4 separate regions of the Homo sapiens genome follow, and regions 2, 3 and 4 are each linked to region 1. The links come from fine-mapping of genetic effects on gene expression. A gene starts in region 1. Each other region holds a variant in brackets. All regions are shown on one strand. Distances are between the middles of the regions.

Region 1 (5,596 bases):
AAGTTCTTTAGAAAGTAGTTGTCAAGTACTTAGTCATCCCTATTATGATATGAGATAGTACAGCTTTTCAGGAAGCTTAGATCTGAATTTACTTTGAAAAACAATTGTAATGAATATTTTATATTTACATTGAGAATTTCAACTAGCTTCTGATCAATTTTTAATAAAAAATTTTCAAATCATGTTAGCTGTTAAAAAATGTATAATAACTCAGTTTTTCTTGGTTTATGGAAATATCTATATTAATGTGAAAATAATTAATTTAGAATTGTGATTAAAGTGAGCATTTGTCTATTGCTGTTGTACACTTCTTTTATCTAACGTATATTTTTATAGTGTCATATACCAGCCCCCTAACCTGCCCCACCTGTCCCCTTTTTAAAAACATATTTTCCAGTTACATAGCACTGAGGTACTCTATTTGGTGTAGATCAACAATAAACATAAGAGCCTACTGTATATTAGGTACTGATATAATTGATTAATCATCTGGCACCAGCTCAATAACCTGTTTTTGCCGTGTTCTTTATAGTTTATCAGGGGATTTGAAAATTACCTCAAAGTATGTTAAAACCAGCCTGGCTGAAAGCACTGATACCTTTATGTTGCCAAACCCAGTGTACAATTTTCTCACCTAATCTTATACACCCTATTCATTATACTCTGATGAAAACATTTGATTTCCTTGGCTCATGTGACACATTTCTTTGTCATTTCTTCCCATCTCCATGCCTACTCTTCATTATTTTGCAGCTTTCTAATCTGTTGTGTCACCTTTACCTACTTGTCTTACCAGTTTCATGTTCTATGCAAACTCCAGGGGTCACTTATGTGACAGTGACTGCCAAGTCAGGGTCTGTACCCTATACCATGCTCTTGACAACAGAACCTGTGGATGGTCCACTGACAATTTGATGTAGCAGATCAGTTGTTAAATTCAACGTCTCCTCCTACCCCTGACATCTCTCCTGTGTTTTCTGTTGGTAAATGAATGGCACCACCATCACTGCAGGTGCCAAAGGTGTCATCCTGGGATTGAGTCTTCTCTCGACTTTCACATCCAGTCACCAAGTCTTACTCCATTTCCTAAATTTCTCAAAACTACTCTTCCATGTGCTCTCCCTTACTCTGAAACATCATCACTCACTATTTCTAACAGGCATCCTTGCCTTGATTCTTAACCTACTCGGGCCTACTTCCATTGTTATTGCCACAGAGGGTTTTATAAAATAAAGTCAGCATGAACACCCCTCTGCAGTCTGCACATACACACCTTACCCTGGTCGAGTTCATAGCCTACTTGGTGTCTGACTCCCCCTTTCCTGCTGCTTCAACCTTGTCTCTGCCCACGTGCAACTTTGATCCCTGCCCCACTAAACTGGGTGCTGGCACAATGGTACCAAGCTTTTCTATGGCTCTGGCCTTCAGAATAGGACTTGCCTCCTTTACGTAGACAACTACTGCCTGTCCTTGAAGACTCAGATTCAACTCAGCTCTTTCAGAAAGCTTCATTTGAATGTCTTTTCTGCCTGGACCAGACTGTGCACCTCCAGGTCAACCTACTGCCACTCAATTACAAATTTCCCTTTTCATGCTTTCTACAATCTGGTGCAGAGTAAGCACTCAAAAAGTGTTCAGCTGATATATGGATTTTACCCAGAACTTTTGCTATGTACTTACTTTTTTTCTTTTTCTTTTTCTTTTTTTCTTTTTTTTTTTTTTTTTTGAGATGCAGTCTCGTTCTGTCGCCAGGCTGGAGTGCAGTGGCGCGATCTCGGCTCACTGCAACCTCCGCCTCCCGGGTTCCAGCGATTCTCCTGCCTCAGCCTCCCAAGTAGCTGGGACTACAGGCACGCACCACCACGCCCCGCTTATTTTTGTATTTTTAGTAGAGACGGGGTTTCACCATGTTGGCCAGGATGGTCTTGATCTCTTGGCCTCGTGATCCACCCGCCTTGGCCTCTCAAAGTGCTGGGATTACAGAAAAAAATGTCTAAATAGAGACAGGGGCGGGGGGGTCTCACTACTTTGAGCAGTTTGGTCTCGAACTCCAGACCTCAAGTGGTCTGCCTAGGCCTCCCAAAGTGCTGGGATTGCAGGTGTAAAACCACCGCGCCCGGCCAGAACTTCTGTGATGTAATTCTGATAACCACATGCTTCGCTTGAAGAAGGGGAGAGAGTAGGGATAATTTCATGTGTCCGGTCTGGGCAACCAACTTTAAGTTCTTTATGCTGGGATTTTGTTCAATTCTTGCCCTATACTTTAAAGAACTGGGGCAAGAGAATGCGAGTAGGAGGACGAGGAGTATGTTCTTCAGGCTGCTACTCTGCAAGGTGGTTTGGGACCACAGCCTGAGAAAGCCCTTCCAGCTCTGGAGTCATAAAAAGGGCGGGAGCCGTTTCTATAGCGACGGGAGGAGGGCGTGGCCGTCCCTTGCCCTCTGCCGGGCTCTCACAGCCTCCCGCAGCGGCGGGCGGTCAGCGCCGGCCTCATGCAGCTCCTCCCGCCGCCTATCCGCACCGGAACAAAGTAAGGGCCGCGGAGGCTCGTACTTCACGAGCAGTCAGGCGCGAGTACGAGGCAGGCGACGAAGCTTCTGGTCGACGGGGTCGTGGGGGGAGAATGAAAAGCGTGCAGAATGCAAGAGCTGACCGGGGAATGTGGGTCAGAGAGAGGCGGGCTGTGGTGCGCGGACAAGAAAATACAGTTGTAGTTTTTGCAGCAGCTGCATCCCCGGAATCCGACGTCAGTATACTTCCATGTTAAGATGCTGTCGCATCGGCGACTCCAGCTGAGTGCAGGACAGGGAGCGAGGGGTTCTGAGGAACTCAGCAGACCTATCCTGGAACTGTGCTTCCAGCCCTCACTGGGACGCCAGACTTTCTTCCTCCCTTTCTTTCTCTTCTTTACTGCATGTCCTCTTGGTAGTCGTAAGTGGGTCCACGACCACACGCCTCGCGTGGATGAGGCTCTGGCAGGCATTACTCATGTTCCCACCCAGCCCATATGCCCGGGCACCTCTGTGCTCAACCAGGGCCCAGCCCCTGACACAAAAGCGCGCGAAGGTGTGTGTAGATCACACACCCAGAGCTGCCACTCAGGAAATTCCCAATATTAGCAAATCTTTCCTTAAAAAAGAGATGAACAATGCACAATTTGAGGGTTTTTAAAGGCTATTCTGTGACATTTGCTGCATTTGAAATGTCCAGCAGCCCCTCAAAGCTTAGGAAAACCGTGACCCCTCTGACATGTCTTAAGCAACGGACAGCATCACCAATATTAATTCAAGCTTCACTGTCCAGGCTTAAGTGGAGACTCGGCAAAAGCAGGAGGCCATTTAGTGGAAAAGTTCAAACCGTGGAAACAACAAATGAAAATGTCCTTTGTCTTGCTTGAGCGATTTGATCACCTACATGTGGTCGGTATGTAAAACCTAGGAGTTCGAAGAAATTCTTCAAACATGCACTCTACCTTATTGTTTCTGTTACTTAAATCTGTTGTTTCTCTTGTTTGTTTTGGTCCTTATGGAGAAAGCAGAGGTAAATCGGAAGGGACTCTCTAGCAATATGCCAGCCACTCTTCCCTGACTTTGCCCTCTCCAACTCCACATATTGTTGCCTGCAACTTGGCTAGAATGCATAGTCCTCAAGCGTGTGGAGGACCCAGTGCTGGGATTTAGTGGTTTTAGCTGACTCTAAGCCCATCGTGAGTGTGTTGTGATGGCTCCCCAAAGAGCAAATGCTGGTGGAGGCTGCATTCATAGAAATGCAATGACCACATCAAAGAATATGGTCGTGCTGCCTGACTTAGCAATGAGTAGAACATAATCCAGACTCTAGAAACTGTAGCTACTTTGAGATCACAAAGAACTGGAAAATAGGAACAACCACAAGGCAGGCTCTCTCTGTCAGGCCTGGGTGTGCCATCACATGAAGAGAGGTTTGAAAAAACTTCACAGAATGCCTGGAGATGAGGAGATGCAAGGGAGAGAAAGCTTTTTTCTACTCAACTTTTGAACATTCAAGAACTCTTGAGTAGAAAAGAGATAGATTTGTTCCTTGGTACTCTGCAGAGGATAGCAAGGATCAGTGGAGGAAATTTTGCTCAATATAGTTTATTCTTCCAAGAAATATCAAGTACCAACCCTATGTAAATTAACAGTTGAGTGTGAAATGGGTTGCCTAGAAAAACAGTGCACTCTGTCATAGAAATATTCCAGCATAGACAGAGTGATTGCCAGGAATACCATAGAAAGAGGATTCTTCCCCAGGGTGGGAAAATGGATGACATGGTCTCCAAAACCTCTTCTAGCTCTTTAGAGTCTGGGAGTCAGTGAACCCTCAAGAGTCTCAGGGATATATGCAGAGGGTCCAAGGAATTCTCTGGCAGAAATGAGTGTGACTTAAAATACATTTAGATAGAAGAAATAAGACCTAGTGTTTAATAAATCAGTAGAATGACAATAGTAAACAATAATCTATTGTATATTTCAAAATAGCTAGTAGAGAATAATTTGAAGCCCTGACTTGATTATATATTATATAAATATAAATATACATCTATTATATATCAATTAAAAAATGAATGTAACTTAAGTTCATTAAAAACATTATCACCTGTTCACAGAATGCAAACGGAATCCCTGCAAACCCTGCACTGCCATACTTTCTGCCCCAAAGACAGCCCCCAGGGCATAAAGATCAAGCTACTGGCAATTGCAGTAGAAATCCTAAAATCATAACAGGTAAATCTCAAAAGACTTGTTTCCTTTCTGGATATTGAAGTACTCTATACACAGATGATGTGTATATATTAATATAAAATACTATGCAGTGCAGTAAGGCTGGCACCTCTGTGGATCTGCCTTAACCTTGAGTCTTCGAACTCCTTGAAAACAAGGCTTCTGTTTTATTTATCTTTGAATCCTCCATGCTTAGCCCAGTAGCTGGCACACAGTTGATGCTCTGGAATTTTTTGATGAATTAATCTATTTTAGATTTCTCTTCCCTCAGCAAATTTGTACCAAGTTTTCAACAGACAAGTCACTGTCCTTACCCCAAAAGGAATTTTTTAAAAATGCAGGATCACCATCTATGTCTCCAAAAGACTAACAATCAATATGAGACAAAAAATATATGCACCTAAGATAATTAAATGACACTAAAGCTCTTGACCAAGTGAAAAAATGGTTTCTTAGGCAAACACACGATTGAACGCTCGAGGAAAGAGAGGAAGGGGAAGGAGAACTCCGATCTGCATGTAAGATGAAATGAGAATGGCCAAACTTTTGGTTTCAGTTCTCAAAGGAACATTCACTCTAGCTCTGAGCTGAGTTTATTAGTTATCTTCAATCCTTCATGTAACAAGATACAAACGAAATATAAAAAGCAGTTTAATTCTTTTCCACATAGCTCACCACATATTTTGAGGATAAAAAGGTAGCATTTGCAAAGCTTTGAGCAAGGGTTAAGTTGTACTGTTGGAAGCCAGAGTTCATGCATAAAAAAAGAAAGGCACAAAATAGTCTTTAATAATCACAGAATTATCCAAGGGATGGCAAAGTTGGAATAAGTCACAAGAGATTTTTTTTTCAGT
Region 2 (4,000 bases), 62 kb after region 1:
TTGTTAAAATGGTCATATTGCCCAAAGCAACTTAAATGTTCAATGCTATTCCTATTAAACTACCAATGAAATTCTTCATAGAACTAGAAAAAACTATTTTAAAATTCATATGGAACCAAAAAAGAGCCTGCCAACAGCCAAGGCACTCCTAGGTGAAAAGAACAAAGCTAGAGGCATCACATTACTCAACTTCAAACTATACTCCAGGACCACAGTAACCAAAACAGCATGGTACTGGTACAAAAACAGACATACAGACCAATGGAACAGAATAGAGAGCCCAAAAATAAGGCCACACAGCTACAACCATCTGATCTTTGACAAAGCTGACAAAAACAAGCAATGGGGAAGGATTCCCTAATTCAATAGGTGCTGGGATAACTGGCTAGCCATATACAGAAGATTGAAACTGGACCCCTTCCTTACACCATATACAAAAATCAACTCAACATGGATTAAAGAGTTAAATGTAAGATTAAAAACTGTAAAAACCCTAGAAGAACACCTAGACAATACCATTCTGGACATAGGAACCGGCAAAGATTTCATGATGAATACACCAAAAGCAACTGCAACAAGAGCAAAGCTTGACAAATGGGATCTAATTAAATTTAAGAGCTTCTGCACATCAATAGAAACTATTAATAGAGTAAACAGACAACCTACATAATGGAAGGAAATATTTGCAAACTATGCATCTGACAAAGGTCTAATGTTCAGCTATAAGGAACTGAAACAAATTTGCAAGAAAAAAACAACCCCATTAAAAAGTGGGCAAAGGACACAAACAGACTCTTTGCAAAAGAAGACATACGTGTGGCCAACAAGCATATAAAAACAAGCTTAATATCACTGGTCACTAGATAAACGCAAATCCAAACCATAATGAGATACCATCTCACACCAGTTAGAATGGCTATTATTAAAAGTAATGGCAAGGATGTGGAGAAAAGGCAACACTTATACACTGTTGGTGGGAGTGTAAATTAGCTCAACCATTGTCAAAAGCAGTGTGGCAATTCCTCAAAGAGCTAAAAACAGAACTACTGTTCAACCCAGCAATCCCATTACTGGGTGTATATCCAAAGGAATATAAATTGTTTTACCATAAAGACACATGCACGTGGATGTTCACTGCAACACTATTCACAATAACAAAGACATGGAGATAACCTAAGTGCCCATCAATGGCAGATGGGATAAAGAAAATGTGGTACATATACACCATGGAATATTATGCAGTCATAAAAAAGAACACAGCCATTTCCTTTGCAGGAACATGGATGCAGTTGGAGGCCATTGCCATTGGCAAATTAACTCAGGAACAGAAAATGAAATGCAGCGTGTTATCAGAAGTGGGAGTTAAATGATGAGAACACATGGACACAAAGAGGGAACAACAGACACTTGAGGGTGAAGGGTGGGAGGAAGAAGACACTCAGAAAAAAATAACTATTGGGTCAGTACTAGGCTTAGTACCTGGGTGACAAAATAAGCTGTACAACAAACCCGTGTGACATGAGTTTACCTATATAACAAACAAGCACATATACCCCTGAACCTAAAATAAGTTAAAAAAAGAAAAATGGGCAGAAGTTATGACAAATTAATCCACAGAAGAGGAAATTCAAATGGTCTTATATGCAAAGATACTCACCCTTATTCCTAATAAGACAAAAAGTAAAGCAACTTAGCAAATTAAAAATTTTAGCATGCACTGTTGGTTAAAGTGTGAGGAAATAGTCCTCTTACACTGTTTTAATAGGTGTGTTAATTGGTACAAGCTCTATGGAAGGCAATTTGGAAACATGTATCAAATTACACAAATAATATTCTCAGTGACCTTGAAGTTCCTTTCCTAGGTGTATAGCACATGTGAATACATTTGAATCTGTGCAAAATTATGTATATTCAAGGATATTCAGTGTAGCATTGCTTACAGTGCAGAATAGTGGCAACTGAAATATCCATACATAAGGGAGGGGTTAAATATATAAAACATATATAAAACATATATGATATATGAAATGGCTTCATATATTATAAAATATATAAAGCCATTAAAAAGAATGTGGCAACTCTATATGTTGCAGAAGAGGATATATATATAAAAAATAATAATTTGTGACTTTA[CGTGTGTGT/C]GTGTGTGTGTGTGTGTGTGTGTGTGTGTGTGTGTGTGTGTATTGCTGGAAGGATAAATAAGAAATTGATCCAAACAATTTTTTTCTCCAGGGAAGGCAATGGGATGGAGCACACAAATGAGAAAACAACCCTTAATTTTCACCATGCATCCTTTTGTACTTTTGAATTTTGAACTATGCACACATATTATTTATTCAAAAATAAATACAAATGTATTTAAAGACATCGGGCTCACAGACATCCCAGTGACAGCAGGTTCAATCACCTGAATCAGTATGAGAATATTTGCATACATTAATCTCTTTTCAAAAAGTCATTTTTAGGTAGTTTCTTTGGTGTCTATGTCATCCCTGTTCTTAAAAATATACTAATATTCAGTGCGTCTATTTATTAGTTGAAGTTTGAACATGCTGCTTCTCATTCCTTCTACTCTTAGAGGGAGTCAATAAAATAGATGACTGGCTTTATCTTTAGAGTAGACAAAGGTGTGTGTGTGTGTGTATATAAAAGTGGGGGACTGCAAGTCTATTGTCCTATTTTAGATACATGTTTCAATTTAAAATAATCTAAAACAACACATTCCAATACAAAAAAAGTCTAAAGCCAGAATGTATTATGTATGTTATATATGAGGGGTTTGATTTCAAAGATGGCTACAAAAGGCTTTCTCACACATTACACACCTGAAAGCTATGCTTACTTTTAGATTTTTTTCATCAGTTTAAATTTTCTTCAGCATATAGCCTCCCACTCCCCACCTCTACTAATTGCTATATACTGTAAAATAGTTGTCTGTTTCACGGATTGGAAACCCTGCGTGGAGACAGAGCTTGCCAACGACCCTTAGGAATAGATCTAATATTGGAAGTTCACACTGTCTTCTAGCCTAACTTGAATGTGCACACAACTCACCTGGGTATTTTGCTAAGATGAAGATTCTGATTCAGTAGGTCTGGAGGGAAGTGTGAGATTCTGCACTTCTAAAAAGCTCCCAGGTGATGCCAATGTTGTAGGTCCACAGACTACACTTTAAGTAGCACGTGTAGTCTTTTTAAGACCAAAGTCAAAGACCATACAGTTTCTTGTTTAGGCTTGATATAGCCTAATCTGGATGCTCTGTAATCGTGTGTTTTCCCAGTCATCAGATAAATATAGCGACCCAGTTGCAAGCGTTGCTAATACCATGTAAATACCACTTAATTAAGCAGAGAAAGCCTGTTTTTCCTTATCTTCTGATTCCTATGATGATGAAATTTTCTAAATAATTCTAGCCTCTTGTGCCACCCTTTGCTACTTAATGATTAACAGCAGTTGGTCCACTTTTCTCAATCAAGAGGAGACAATCAAAAGCACTGAGGAAGAGAAAATGAGAGAGAGAGAGAGAGAGAGAGAGCAAGCGAGCGAGAAGGCAGAGAGGAGAGAGAAGAGAAGGTTGTAGGGATGGTCTTTTTAATTCCCGCACTTCAGTGTGAAGCATCTGGGGTAAGTGTGCGTGTTCTCCAGACTCAAACCCTCCCTTTGGCGCGCAGTTCTGATGCTTACTGGGCACCTTGGGTGGAGGACAAGAACTTATCAGGCACGTTTACCTTTATCAGTAATAACAGTGATAAGTTGATTTCCCATCTACCTTATGCTTTAGTCTTACTTGTCAACTGATTCAGAGCTTAGGGTAGGGGGAAGAGGGGTGTTATCCACTGAATCCTTTCAAATCCCCAACGCCACCTAGACAACCAGCTAAGACAGTAATGGCATGTTTGAAAAGGTCATAAATTCAGACTCTGCCTCTTCCCTAACACATCCCAGGGCTACTTTCCAGCTTCATCTCATCCTTTGAGCAATGCTGTCCTATCCAAAACTC
Region 3 (5,596 bases), 28 kb after region 1:
AGTCCTCATCATTACTGTGCTGTGCAGGACTTAGCTGTGCTGGATGATATTAAGTGTTGTACCCAGTTGTTATTTCAGTGTGGCCAAATGTTTACAGAAGTGGGTCTGATACCAGCTGTGTGTCAGCTTTGGATAAACATCCTTCAACTCCATAGGGGAGGTCTGGAAGAAGGAGGAACCCTGGTTTGGCTTCAAAGACCAGAACTTCGATTCAAGCTCTAGCCTGTTGTTTGCTAAACTTCAGTCATTTGAGGGCCAGCTTTACAGTTTTTGCCATGCCTACGCCTACATAGTCCTCACACTCTGTTTTGTTTTATTATTGTTTTTTGTAGAGACAAGGTCTCTATCTGTTGCTCAGGCTGGAGTGCAGTGGCACGATCATAGCTCACTGTAACCTGGAAATCTTGGCCTCAAGTGATCGTCCCACCTCAGCCTCTCAAAGCACTGGGATTACAGGTGTGAGACACCATGCCTGGCCTTACTTTTTTTTTTAACTTAAATTTTAATCTCATCCTACATAATAACAACCACAACGTTACAAGTTCAATGTGCTTGTTACAGTTTTTCAAATGGATATTACAGTAAATCCATACCCATTAGATAGCTCTTTATCTGCGTACTGTACACATTACGTCCTCTTCCTCTGCGGGGTGCTTGCCGCCCTCTGGGACACACTGCTCTAGTATTTTGGTCTTCTTCTCCTCACCCTTCTAGGCGTGAAGTCTCTTCTGATCAGGGCACTGGTGTCCAGGCTGGGTGCCTGTGTTCCACTGGGTGGGTTCCACTATGCCACCTTCAGAGCCACACTCAGGGCGAAAAGACTTCCAGGCAAGGCAATGGCCATTTTCTTTTCTAAAGAGCAAGAGCAGCTCAGCTGTTACTCCTTACCGTAAGCAGGGTCTCTAGTTAAGATTTTGTTGGAAGAAAAGGCCATATTGATTTTTTTTAAAGCATGAAAACCATAGGCCAAGCCCATCCAGGATGAACACTTTGGGAAAGATCATTTGTTTGGATAATCATCCATTCATACATTCATTGAGTACTTATTGGAGCCTCTCTTGGCTCTTCCCAGCTAAGGATTCAGGAGAGCTGGCCTCAAGCATAGTTTGTTTATTGTAATGTAACAAAAATATACAGTGTGGGATAAAGCCATGCCAAGCATTGTTCCTATTTTCTTCCACTTGATCCAGGTTGGAAGTAAACTTTCGGTTCAGATCCAGAAGCCACCTTCCAATATCAAGAACTCCAGAATGACCCAAGTCTTTCATAAGGTAGGGAGTGATGGTCAGCTCCTTTTCTCTAGGAGAGAATGAGGAGAGGTGGGTGGCCAGGGTAGCTTTGAACAGACAGTTTTGGCCAATTTATCATAAAATGTATCATAACATGATGACAGCACTCTATCCACGTCACCACACCCCATCTCCACATCACCACGCCCCATCTCCTCCACATGATTTTTAAAAATGTTTTTATTTTAATTTTTGTGGGTATATAGTAGGTACATATATTTATGGGATACATGAGATGTTTTGATGTAGATATGCAATGTGTAATAATCACATCATGGAAAATGGGGTATTTGTCCCCTCAGGCATTTATCCTTTGTGTTACATACAATAAAATACAATTAAATTACTATTGATTATAGTCACCCTGTTGTGCTATCAAACATGAGGTCTTATTCAGTGTACGTTTTTGTACCCATTAACCATCCCCACCTCTCCCCTGACCACTACCCTTCCCAGCCTCTGATAACCATCCTTTTAATCTCTGTCTCCCTTAATTAAATTGTTTGGATTTTTAGATCCCATAAATAAGTGAGAACATGTGATATTTCTCTTTCTGTGCCTGGCTTATTTCACTTAGCATAATGATCTCTAGTTCTATCCATATTCTTGCAAATGACAGGTTCTCATCCTTTTTTATGACTGAATAGTATTCCATTGTGTTTAAGTATCACATTTTCTTTATTCATTCATCTGTTGATGGACACTTAGGTTGTTTCCAAATTTTAGCTCTTCTGACCTCTCTCCTGATTAATCAGTCAATCAGTCAGTGCAGGAGGCAGGGATCCAAGTGAGTAGGTCAAGTCAATAATGTAGTCATAGAGGAAATTGAAGCTTATGTTGCACTGAGGAAGATTTGTGTGATATAACAGGAAGAACTTCCCTGCGTTAGGGTGGTAAGATATTGGAGTAATAATAATAATGGCCAGCACTTACAGAATACTCTCTATATATTGACTCATTTACCTCACAAAAGCCTTATGAGGTAGGCCCCATTTTTGTTCCCATGGTAGTGATGAAATAATTGAGGTTTCGAGAAAGAGTCAGTGTGAGCTGTTGAAAGCCTGCAGCTAGTAAGTAGTAGAGCAGGGACTCAAACCCAGAGCCCATGTGTTTGTTGACTCTGCTGCTCTGGAATCTGCATTTCTTGCCAAGAACTTTAAGAATAGGTTTAGGTCCAGATTGGGGTTAGGCTCATTCTTGTTGGGGAATTGGGAAGGGAGGCTGGAAGAAATGACCCCTGGAGACGTTTTCTTGCCTAAGGCTTTTGTAACACATGCAATTTCTCCTTCTACAGAACACCAGTGTTACTTCACTCCCCTTTGTGGACACCAAGGGGAAGAAGAATACGGTAAGCTTCCCACACATTAGCAAGAAAGTCCTGCTGAAGTCATCCCTGCTGTATCAGGTGAGTGCAGACGGACTGGACCCTGAGAAGGCAGGTGAAAGACCTGGTTTTAGTCCAAAGCCAGTTTTAGAAAGGCCCAGGATAGTGGGGAAAAGCACAGTAGCTGCTGAAGAGGTGGGTTCTAGTCCTGTTCTCATTCTTTACAATGACTATAAGCTTGAGCAAATAAGTCCTTGACCTTTTCTTAGCTACAAAATGGGCCCTCTCTAGAGCTGTCAGGAGGATTCATTGAGGAAAAATGAAGTGCTGGTACATAAAAGGTGGAACCATACAAAATATTAGTTTCCTCCCATGTCCTCCTACTTCTTTTGTGTAGGGACCAAATAAGATAATAGGTGCGAAGGTGCCAACTGAAAGAGGCGTCACACACACATAAGTCCATGTGCTCCTGGGCAAGTCACTTTGTCTTGTTGGGAGCTCACCTTCTTAAGAGCAGCAGTGAAAAACTGTTCCCATCTCTTCCCATAGTGAGATGTTGCTGGGGTTGTCAGCAGCATA[C/T]GGTAAGGTACAGGGGTCTCCCCAGGAATAGTGTCAGTCAGACAGATGCTTCCTTTGGGAGAGAGGTAGGGAGAACCTTCTGTCTCTTAATCGCTGTTTTCTCCCTGGAGAGGTAGGTAAAGAGCCTGGCTGAAGGTGGGTGTCTTTGGTTAAATAAATGGTTTATGGCCCCCAGGAGAGTCCTAAGTAGTTATTTATTGCAAACCTCTTTTCCTGGACAGGAGAATCAAGCTCACAATCAGATGCCGGCCTCAGAGCTCAAGGCTTCAGAAATACCTTTCCACCCTAGCATTAAAACCCAGGATCCCAAGGCAGAGGAGAAGTCACCAAAGAAGCAAAAGGTGACTCTGACAGCGGCAGGTATGCCTTTGGGGCAGTAGCAGGGTGGGGAGGTGCTTATGGAAGGTCGGGGTGTTAAGAGCTAAGCTGCGCTGGAGTGAGCTAAGCTGCCAGGTGTCAGAGTAGTCAAAGAAGGCAGCCAGCCAAGAGGAAAGTAGAAGTTAAGCGTTGAACCTCTGACTGTGGTAGTATAAGCAAGAGGCTGAATAGGAGGCTGAATTTCCCCCAAGGAGTGGCTCTGGGCAAGGGCGGGATGTACCAATGCAGACAGAAGGAAGTGTCTCATTTGCCTAAGGAGCCCAGACACAAGGCTCCTGTCATTTTATGGACCCAGGGGCCAGCGGGAAGGCACTGAGAGAGTGGAAGAGCCAGGAGTGGAAAGGTACTGAATACTGAGAGCAGAGCAAAGGGTGCTGAAGCTTGCTCCTTCCTCTTGATAAGGAGGTGTTGGAGAGGAGCCTCTGTAGGGGGATCTTGATTAGAAATGCAGACATGTAGAAGAGCATGGCCAGCCAGGGGTCTCAGTCCTTGGCTGTAGCTTCCTCCAGAGATTGCAATGCATTGGCTGTGCACCAGCTCTGGTGCAGGGAGGGCAGCTTTGCCCGTGAGGCTTGCCAGGTGAAGCCTTTGTGGATTGCCTTGTGGTCAGGCCTGAAAGATTACACATGGGTTTTTGGCCAGTAGCTAGACTTTTAATGGGATTCAGAGACTCATAACCTATTAGGATGCAAAGGAAGAGAGCCCAAATCCACCGAGCATCCACTATGTGTGCCATCATCAGACACTTTACAGCTCTTCTACCACAGCTTAGAAACTGAAATTGGTGCTTGTTGTTCTTAAACAACTCCGGGAACTATGCATGAAGAGGTCATTTCAGTCCTGAGCTAGTTCTGCCTTCACAGAGCTGCCATCTGCCCCCCTGCTATCTTATGCCTTGGCTCTGTCCTCTGGGCAAAGAACATGCCTTATTCAGCTTATACTTGACTGCCCTTCACATATATGAAAACAGAAGTCTTGTTCCCTATAAGTCTTTTTCTTTTTCCTTGCAGTTCCCTCTCTAGTGCTTCAGCAGTTTGTCAAATAATATGGTGCCCCCTATCCTAATCCTAGTTTCTTTTCTCTGAGAATGCTCTAGTTCATCAGTTACTGTGAATTTTACCCCTGACCACGCACGAGAGCGCCAATGTGATCTGGCTGGTGTAGGGAAGTCCTAACTCATAATCTCTTCTTGCAATCTGAGGTCCTTCCTGATCCAGCTGCAGATTTGAGCGTGAAGCCTCCTGGGCCTTTAATGTTGCCTTTATGTTACCTGTCTGGCCCTGCAGACATTACAGTTCTCAAAGCCTCTCAAGACGGACTAATTATAGCTTAATTCCACGTTAACTTGGGCAACTTGCCACCTAAACTATATACTATTGTCGACACTAATTTGACTCCTGGAATTTTTACCTGCGCTGCTCTAACCCCCAGGTGTTTGGGAACTGAGCTCTCTGTTCCCCTGTCCTTGTGTTCCTTTCTCGATTTGTTGAAATAAATACAAGACCTTGACATTTATTCTTGTCATACTTCCATCTTGTGAGATGCCAGATGCAGGGTCCTCAGTGAGCCACCCAGCTGGGGAACAGGCTGATGGCTCGTGACCTGGAAGGGATGCCATCGTCTGCATCCGGGGCAAATCCCATGCTGCCTCAACTGAACTCACAATTGTAGTGTTTTTCACACAGAGGCCCTAAAGCTTTTTAAGAACCAGCTGTCTCCATATGAACAAAGTGAAATCCTGGGCTACGCGGAGCTGTGGTTCCTGGGTCTTGAAGCCAAGAAGCTCGACACGGCTCCTGAGAAATTTAGCAAGACGAGTTTTGATGATGAGCATGGCTTCTATCTGAAGGTGATGGGGGTGGGGGCCATGGGAACCTGCAGGGGCCCAGGGACAAGAGGTAGTCTAGAAAGGAAAAAAGCAACGGTATTTTGTAGTATTTGGGGCTGATACGTTGGAGACTAGATATCCTGAAGTATTCTGGTAGTGCCAAACCAAGGAAATACCATGTTTGAAAATGGGGAAGCA
Region 4 (5,596 bases), 46 kb after region 1:
TATGCTTTCACTTGAAAGCCATCTTGTTTTGGAAATAAATTAGACAAAATAGAAAAATAACTTTAAAAATTTTAAATTTTACATTTTAGGATTTTCCCAGTGAACAAAGATATTTTGTGTGCAAACACCAAGCTAGCTGGCTGGCTGGCTATCTATCTATCTATCTATCTATCTATCTATGTATCTGTATCTATCTATCTTTGCCAAATTTCTATTTTCCAGATTGTCTCAAAGTTACAGAGAAACACATATAGCCTTGAGAATGACTAAACATAGATAATTTCATTTCATGATCGAAACTAATAATAAAATATTAAAATAACTTAGGTAAAAATAGCTGTGGTGGAATGAACACTGGCCTGCGAGTCATTAAACCTGGGGTCTTAGTCCTGGCTCTGTCTTTTTGACTAGGCATTTCCCAGCTCTGGACTATAAAATGAGGGGAGCAGAGAAGATGGCTTCTAAGGTTGATAATGAATGATTTTATAAAGCATCCCCAGACCACTCCTGCTTCCAATACCAAAGAGAACGGGGCCTATGTTTCAAATTTCCTACAGCCCCAGAACTGACTCAGCTTCCTCTTGACCTCAGTGTCAAAGGGTCTGAGGAACAGAAGAGCAGGATAATGGATGGATTATGGGTGGGAACCGAGCAGCAAGGGCAGGTGACCCACACTGTAATTTCCTTATCTCTGTGTGCCCCTCTAAGTTGCAGTAGGAAAAGATGAACAAGTAGGTGCTACACTTTTCTTTTCAAGAAGGTATTTTGTCTTATAATTGTCTGATGCTCATCCGGTGATTTTCATCTTTTCTTCTCCCTTTCCAGTGCTCCATGGTGGGATATATCATTCTTTAATTCTGACATGGCAGCATGTGTACTAGTTTATTTGCTTTGACAATGACATCTGGCTGCTATCAAGGGTGGTGGCCCACCCCTAGTTGGTGCTGATGTTTGTGTAGAATAACATGGCCAGTGTTGATTCTTAGGATATGAAACCAGCCCTGGATTAGGAGTTAAAAGGCCCAGGCTCTGGGTTTGCTCTGCTACTGACCAGATGTTATTACTTAATGCTTTGAATCCTTATCTGTAGAAGGCAAAGCTTGGCCAAAGTACGCTCCACCCCTCAGCCTTTGAATCTGTGCTCCCACAAAGAATGAACCAATTGAATTATCCTTATTAAGGTGCTGGGTCTGCCGCCAGCCGGCTTCATTCAGACAGCCTCCAGGAGACAGACATTCTTTGGTAAGTCCTAGTGTGTCTCATGAGGTGTCACAGGCCTTGAAGACACCTGCCATACCTTAAGGCTCATTTCATTCTTTTCCCCTGGCCACATACCAAAGGGCTGTGATTAAGAGCGTCTTTCAGAGAAGTAAAAGATAATGAGCAGGGGAATCGGATAGCATGTTGGAGATGGGATGGGGGAGTCACAGTGGGAACAGGGTCTTGACAGTAAAAATGCTCAGGAGGAGGAGAATAGCCAGGTCCCTGCTCAGAAGAGCTATCAGCAAATATTGCAACCTCAAAATATTGTAACTGCATCCTCTCCCGGAAGTTCTCCCCACTCTCCCAAGCAACTTGCCCTCTCACACTATGCACTGTGCAGGGAAATCAAAGAGCAGAAGCTTCATTTCAAGAATAGTGGAAAATTCCATTGCTGCATTATTGTTTCCCCTGCTAAAATTCTTCTTATCCTCCAGACCTTACTGTGCCAGGTTCATTGCCAATGGTTAAGCAAGGACTTAGTTTTGCTTTGATGTGTTGTGGCTGGTAGTTATGTACGTGTCATCTGTCTGATTGTTGGGAGTAAACTTCGTCCACAGTCCAGGCTGCCCCTCTCCTCATAATTCCCAGAATTCTGGATTTTTATGATCCTCCGCCTTTCTATTTAAGTGGTCCTATACAAGATGGAAGGATGGGTCGACAAGGTATCAACTGAGGCAGGGCTTTCAACGTACACGCACCAAAAAGATGCAGCAAATCTCATACCTAAAATCCCTTTAAAGAACCACAGGAAGCTAAGAGTCCCAGATAGAAACAGCCAGAGTGGGCTGAAGGTCAGCAAAGTGGAGCAAAGCCAAATAGGAGGAAAAGGGAACTCCACAGACAGGGACTCCATGCTACCTGGAGTGACATTTCTGACCAGCCATTGTTGTCAGGTCGGTTCATGGACTCCCTCTGACCACACAATCCCAGACATTCCTGGCCCTCCCACCTCTGATTTTCAACTGCGAGCAGCTTCTGAATATGTATGCAAATCACACAATTTCTGTTCACAACTTGCTCCATCAGTAGGAAGGTCCAAAACACTCTCGTGGGGAGATCCTTTAGGATAAAAGGGTTTGGGTCATGCTGGTCAGTATGAACTGATTCAGCCATGTGGGGGTTATAATTTGTCTATTTCTGTACCATTTGGTAAAAAGCCACAGCCCTGAGCCCTGCTACAACTGCAGGCTCCCTGGCCCTCTCCCAGGACTCCTTAAACTCTCCATGATCCAAAAACCTAAAAGCTGAAGGCCAAGCAAGCAGAAGTTCTCTATGATCCTACTCCAGTGCCAGGGCTGTCTTCCATTCTGATTAGTTGGTTCCATGCCATTCATTCCAATGGTTAATTCTTTTAAACATCATCTGGTAATCATGGCTGGAGCTTTGGAGACCTTGCCTCTGAGCAGGGCAGTGTCCTGGTTGCCATAGAATGGTGACCACACATTAACCGAGCAATCTGGCGGTAGGCAAAGGATCTGGCTGGCTCCCCAGTATAATTTACACATGGAGCACGCGAACTGGTCTTTGGATCCCAAATATACTTTTTCTAC[C/T]CACAACTTAATAATTCAGCCTTTTGGATTAGGCAGAGTCACTGTGGGAAGACATATCTTGAGCCTGTAACTCTGAACTCATGAGATAGCATCTAGGTGGGGACTAGCAGGAAGGGAACACAGAGCACCTTCGTAGGAACGTACTAAAGACATAGGCATGTCTACTTCATAGAGTTCCTTATTTCTACCATCAGCACTAGGCTTTAGGATGGTGATGGGGTTTTGGCAGCAATATCCATGTCTTCACTTCCTGTGAAAGAAGGAATGTTGCTGAGAACTGCATCTTCGTCAGTGTTTTCCAAACTCTATCCAAATGTAAGAATCATTTGGGGACTTGGCAAAAAAGCGAATTCCTGTGATTCTCTTCTATAAGCTATGCTATGGGAAGATTGCGATAGGACCCAGGATTCGACGTTTTTAATGACGGCTCCTTGTGATTCTTATGACAAAATAAGTTTGGGAAACACGGTTGTCCACTTCAGTTCTTGACTGTTCCTTTCCCAGGTTTGGGCTGCCAACTGCTCCTCTGCCCCGGGCGACTCCTAGTTAATACCCCTAATTAGCAGCAAAATGGTGTTGTCTCAAGGCTGGTAAGATATTATACTTAGGTGGCCCAGGTGGCTCAGGTAGTAAGAAGGGGATGGAGGGAATGACTGATGAGGGCCAGAGTGAGAAAAAACAATTACATGATCATGACTTTAGGAGCTTTGTTATTGATAAGACTGTGAGCTTGATTCTTCTTTGGTCATTGGTAAAAAGGACAATGTAGGATGAAGTGGGAGGGCTAAGGCCATGATCCAAAAGGAAATGGATATTTGTACAATTTCACAGGACCTTGTCACTTAACATTTACTTTACCATTGTCATTATTATCATTAGCATTATTATTTTATCTTGGTTGGTGTTAAGCCATTTAAATTATTTCTTTGATTTGGAGAGGAGGCAGTGGGAAGGAAGTTCAGAACATACTGAATAGTAGGAAAAAATCAATTTTTAAAGTAAATTGCATTCCTTGGGTAATCTACACATGGTTATTTCAAACTGAGTGTGTGTGTGTGTGTTTATTGGGGTGTGGCATGAGGCGAGTGTGTAAGACAGAGAGCAAAAGAGCTACAGAGGCCACTCTAAGCAGCAGCATCATGTGACCACTAAAGATTTACACCTGAAACTAAATACAGAATGTTCTATCTCTACAGATTCCAAAGGTTTTCCTAAAAATATAACCAACAACAGGGGGAAAAAAAGATACCCAGATTCCAAGGACCTCACGATGGTGCTGAAAACCTATGACACCAGCTTCCTGGACTTTCTCAGAAGGTGTTTGGTGTGAGTTTGTTGGGACATCTCTGCTTCTGGGTTTCCTCTTAAATGCTGTACTTTGACACACGTTTGCTGGTGAAAGACTAAGGCTGGGAGATAGTTATAAAAGTAACAAGAAATGCTAACAATAGAGCTTTAAAGTCTACAAATTGCTTCCACATCTGTTGTTTCATCAGACATCTCTCCCTACTGTGTGGTTGTCAGGGCAGATGATTTGCTCTGTTTTGCACGTATGGAGGTTGGGGTTCAAAGAGATTAAGTGACCTGCCCTGGAATACACAGCGTATGGTAGAGTTTGTCATCTTCCTGGCCTCAAACTGCCTGGCAGTGAGATTGTTTGCCAGTCCTAAATGTCTTCTGCTCTGTGAGCTGAAGCCAACCCCCTGACTGCTTGTTGTAATGATTTGCATACACATCCAGTGTAAACTGGTTTCAGGGCCTGTCCCCCTCCCCCTAGGATTTAGTACCCAAATCGTCTTATATTAGGGAATTAGGGGGAAGGTGAGCTGTAAACCATTTATTATGTACAACTTTTTATAATCTATATGCATATTTTGAATCTTAGAAATTAGATCTGTACTTAAGTCGTAGTACCCAGCACAGCACCCAGTTTAAAAGGTGTTTAGAAAACGTTAGCTATTCTTATTATTTTACGACTATTAAAGAGGTAAATCTATCTCCACAGAGTGGCAAGTAGATTATCCATGTGATACTTGGCAAGTCATCACTTTTTTCTGGGCCTCAGTGTTCTTTCCTATAAAATACGGTATTCCTAAGCTCCCTTCCAGTTCTATCAGTCCTATAATTTAGTATTTTTAGAAGACCATATCATTACAGTCTCTTATTCTTCCAGTTGGATGGAGTGATGTTATCAAAATACTCTTCTGGCATCTGTGCTCTCTGGAATTTCAGTACTAGCTCAGAGGGTGAACCATGAGGTAATGATGAAAGTATTCCCATCGTAGGGGGTCATGCTATTCACTCATCAGAATAATCAAGGTAGGGAAGGATCCTGTACCCCATCTTTACCCCTACCTTAACAAATGACAGAAACCAACTGCTGAGACAGATGGGTTATCCAGAAACCTCAACCATCCAGAACACAGCTCAGCACCAAGGAAGGCATTATTTTCTTCTTTAGTGCAAAGGACTGATTACTCATAACTTGCAAGAGGCAGTCAGGCTGATGGGGACTGTTATCTTATATATATATATTGCTAATTAGAAAATCTTTGAGACTAAAAGTTTTGAGCCAAGTTCAATAGGCATAAATGTAAAGCCCCGTGTCTAGACTTTGTAGGCGAACTCCAGAAGTCCAGGAAAGGAGAGATGTTGTTTAACAGCAATTCATTTGACACAGAAATGAGAGTTTGAGCTGTTTTAGGACCTTAATGAGTCTAGAATGTTAATACTGTCTCCCTGCAGTTATAGAAGCTATTCCCACCATGATGGACACCAGTTAG

Direction of the effects. Alleles are on the strand shown, and positions count from the first base shown. SD is a standard deviation of normalised expression in the study named. Not every link is listed here.
With allele CGTGTGTGT in place of C in region 2, the expression in naive CD4 T cells of the gene that starts at base 2,455 in region 1 is lower (large effect, 0.80 SD a copy in Schmiedel 2018).

What was found. PIP is the estimated chance that this variant, and not a neighbour inherited with it, causes the effect. A credible set is the group of variants that fine-mapping cannot tell apart.
Region 2: its variant is the best candidate, but not a certain one, in a credible set for the expression of DYRK4 in naive CD4 T cells (Schmiedel 2018, PIP 0.71).
Region 3: its variant is the best candidate, but not a certain one, in a credible set for the expression of DYRK4 in T cells (TOPMed, PIP 0.85).
Region 4: its variant is the best candidate, but not a certain one, in a credible set for the expression of DYRK4 in cerebellar hemisphere (GTEx, PIP 0.73).

The regions. Positions count from the first base shown.
Region 1 is chr12:4,559,754-4,565,349 of GRCh38, forward strand. It overlaps DYRK4 (dual specificity tyrosine phosphorylation regulated kinase 4), which reads left to right and starts at 2,455. Exons shown (of 15, transcript NM_001394779.1): 1 at 2,455-2,530. The coding sequence starts at 2,493. It overlaps RAD51AP1 (RAD51 associated protein 1), which reads left to right. Exons shown (of 9, transcript NM_006479.5): 9 at 1-294. RefSeq lists a silencer at 2,290-2,584.
Region 2 is chr12:4,622,183-4,626,182 of GRCh38, forward strand. All of the region lies in intron 5 of AKAP3 (A-kinase anchoring protein 3), which reads right to left. Among named protein-coding and RNA genes, the nearest start is that of AKAP3, 25 kb to the right of the region's middle. The variant CGTGTGTGT/C (reference allele first, on the strand shown) is at 2,134.
Region 3 is chr12:4,587,747-4,593,342 of GRCh38, forward strand. It overlaps DYRK4 (dual specificity tyrosine phosphorylation regulated kinase 4), which reads left to right. Exons shown (of 15, transcript NM_001394779.1): 3 at 1,191-1,271; 4 at 2,584-2,694; 5 at 3,414-3,552; 6 at 5,256-5,419. Among named protein-coding and RNA genes, the nearest start is that of DYRK4, 28 kb to the left of the region's middle. The variant C/T (reference allele first, on the strand shown) is at 3,193.
Region 4 is chr12:4,606,146-4,611,741 of GRCh38, forward strand. It overlaps DYRK4 (dual specificity tyrosine phosphorylation regulated kinase 4), which reads left to right. Exons shown (of 15, transcript NM_001394779.1): 12 at 1,182-1,242; 13 at 4,010-4,139. Among named protein-coding and RNA genes, the nearest start is that of AKAP3, 40 kb to the right of the region's middle. The variant C/T (reference allele first, on the strand shown) is at 2,814.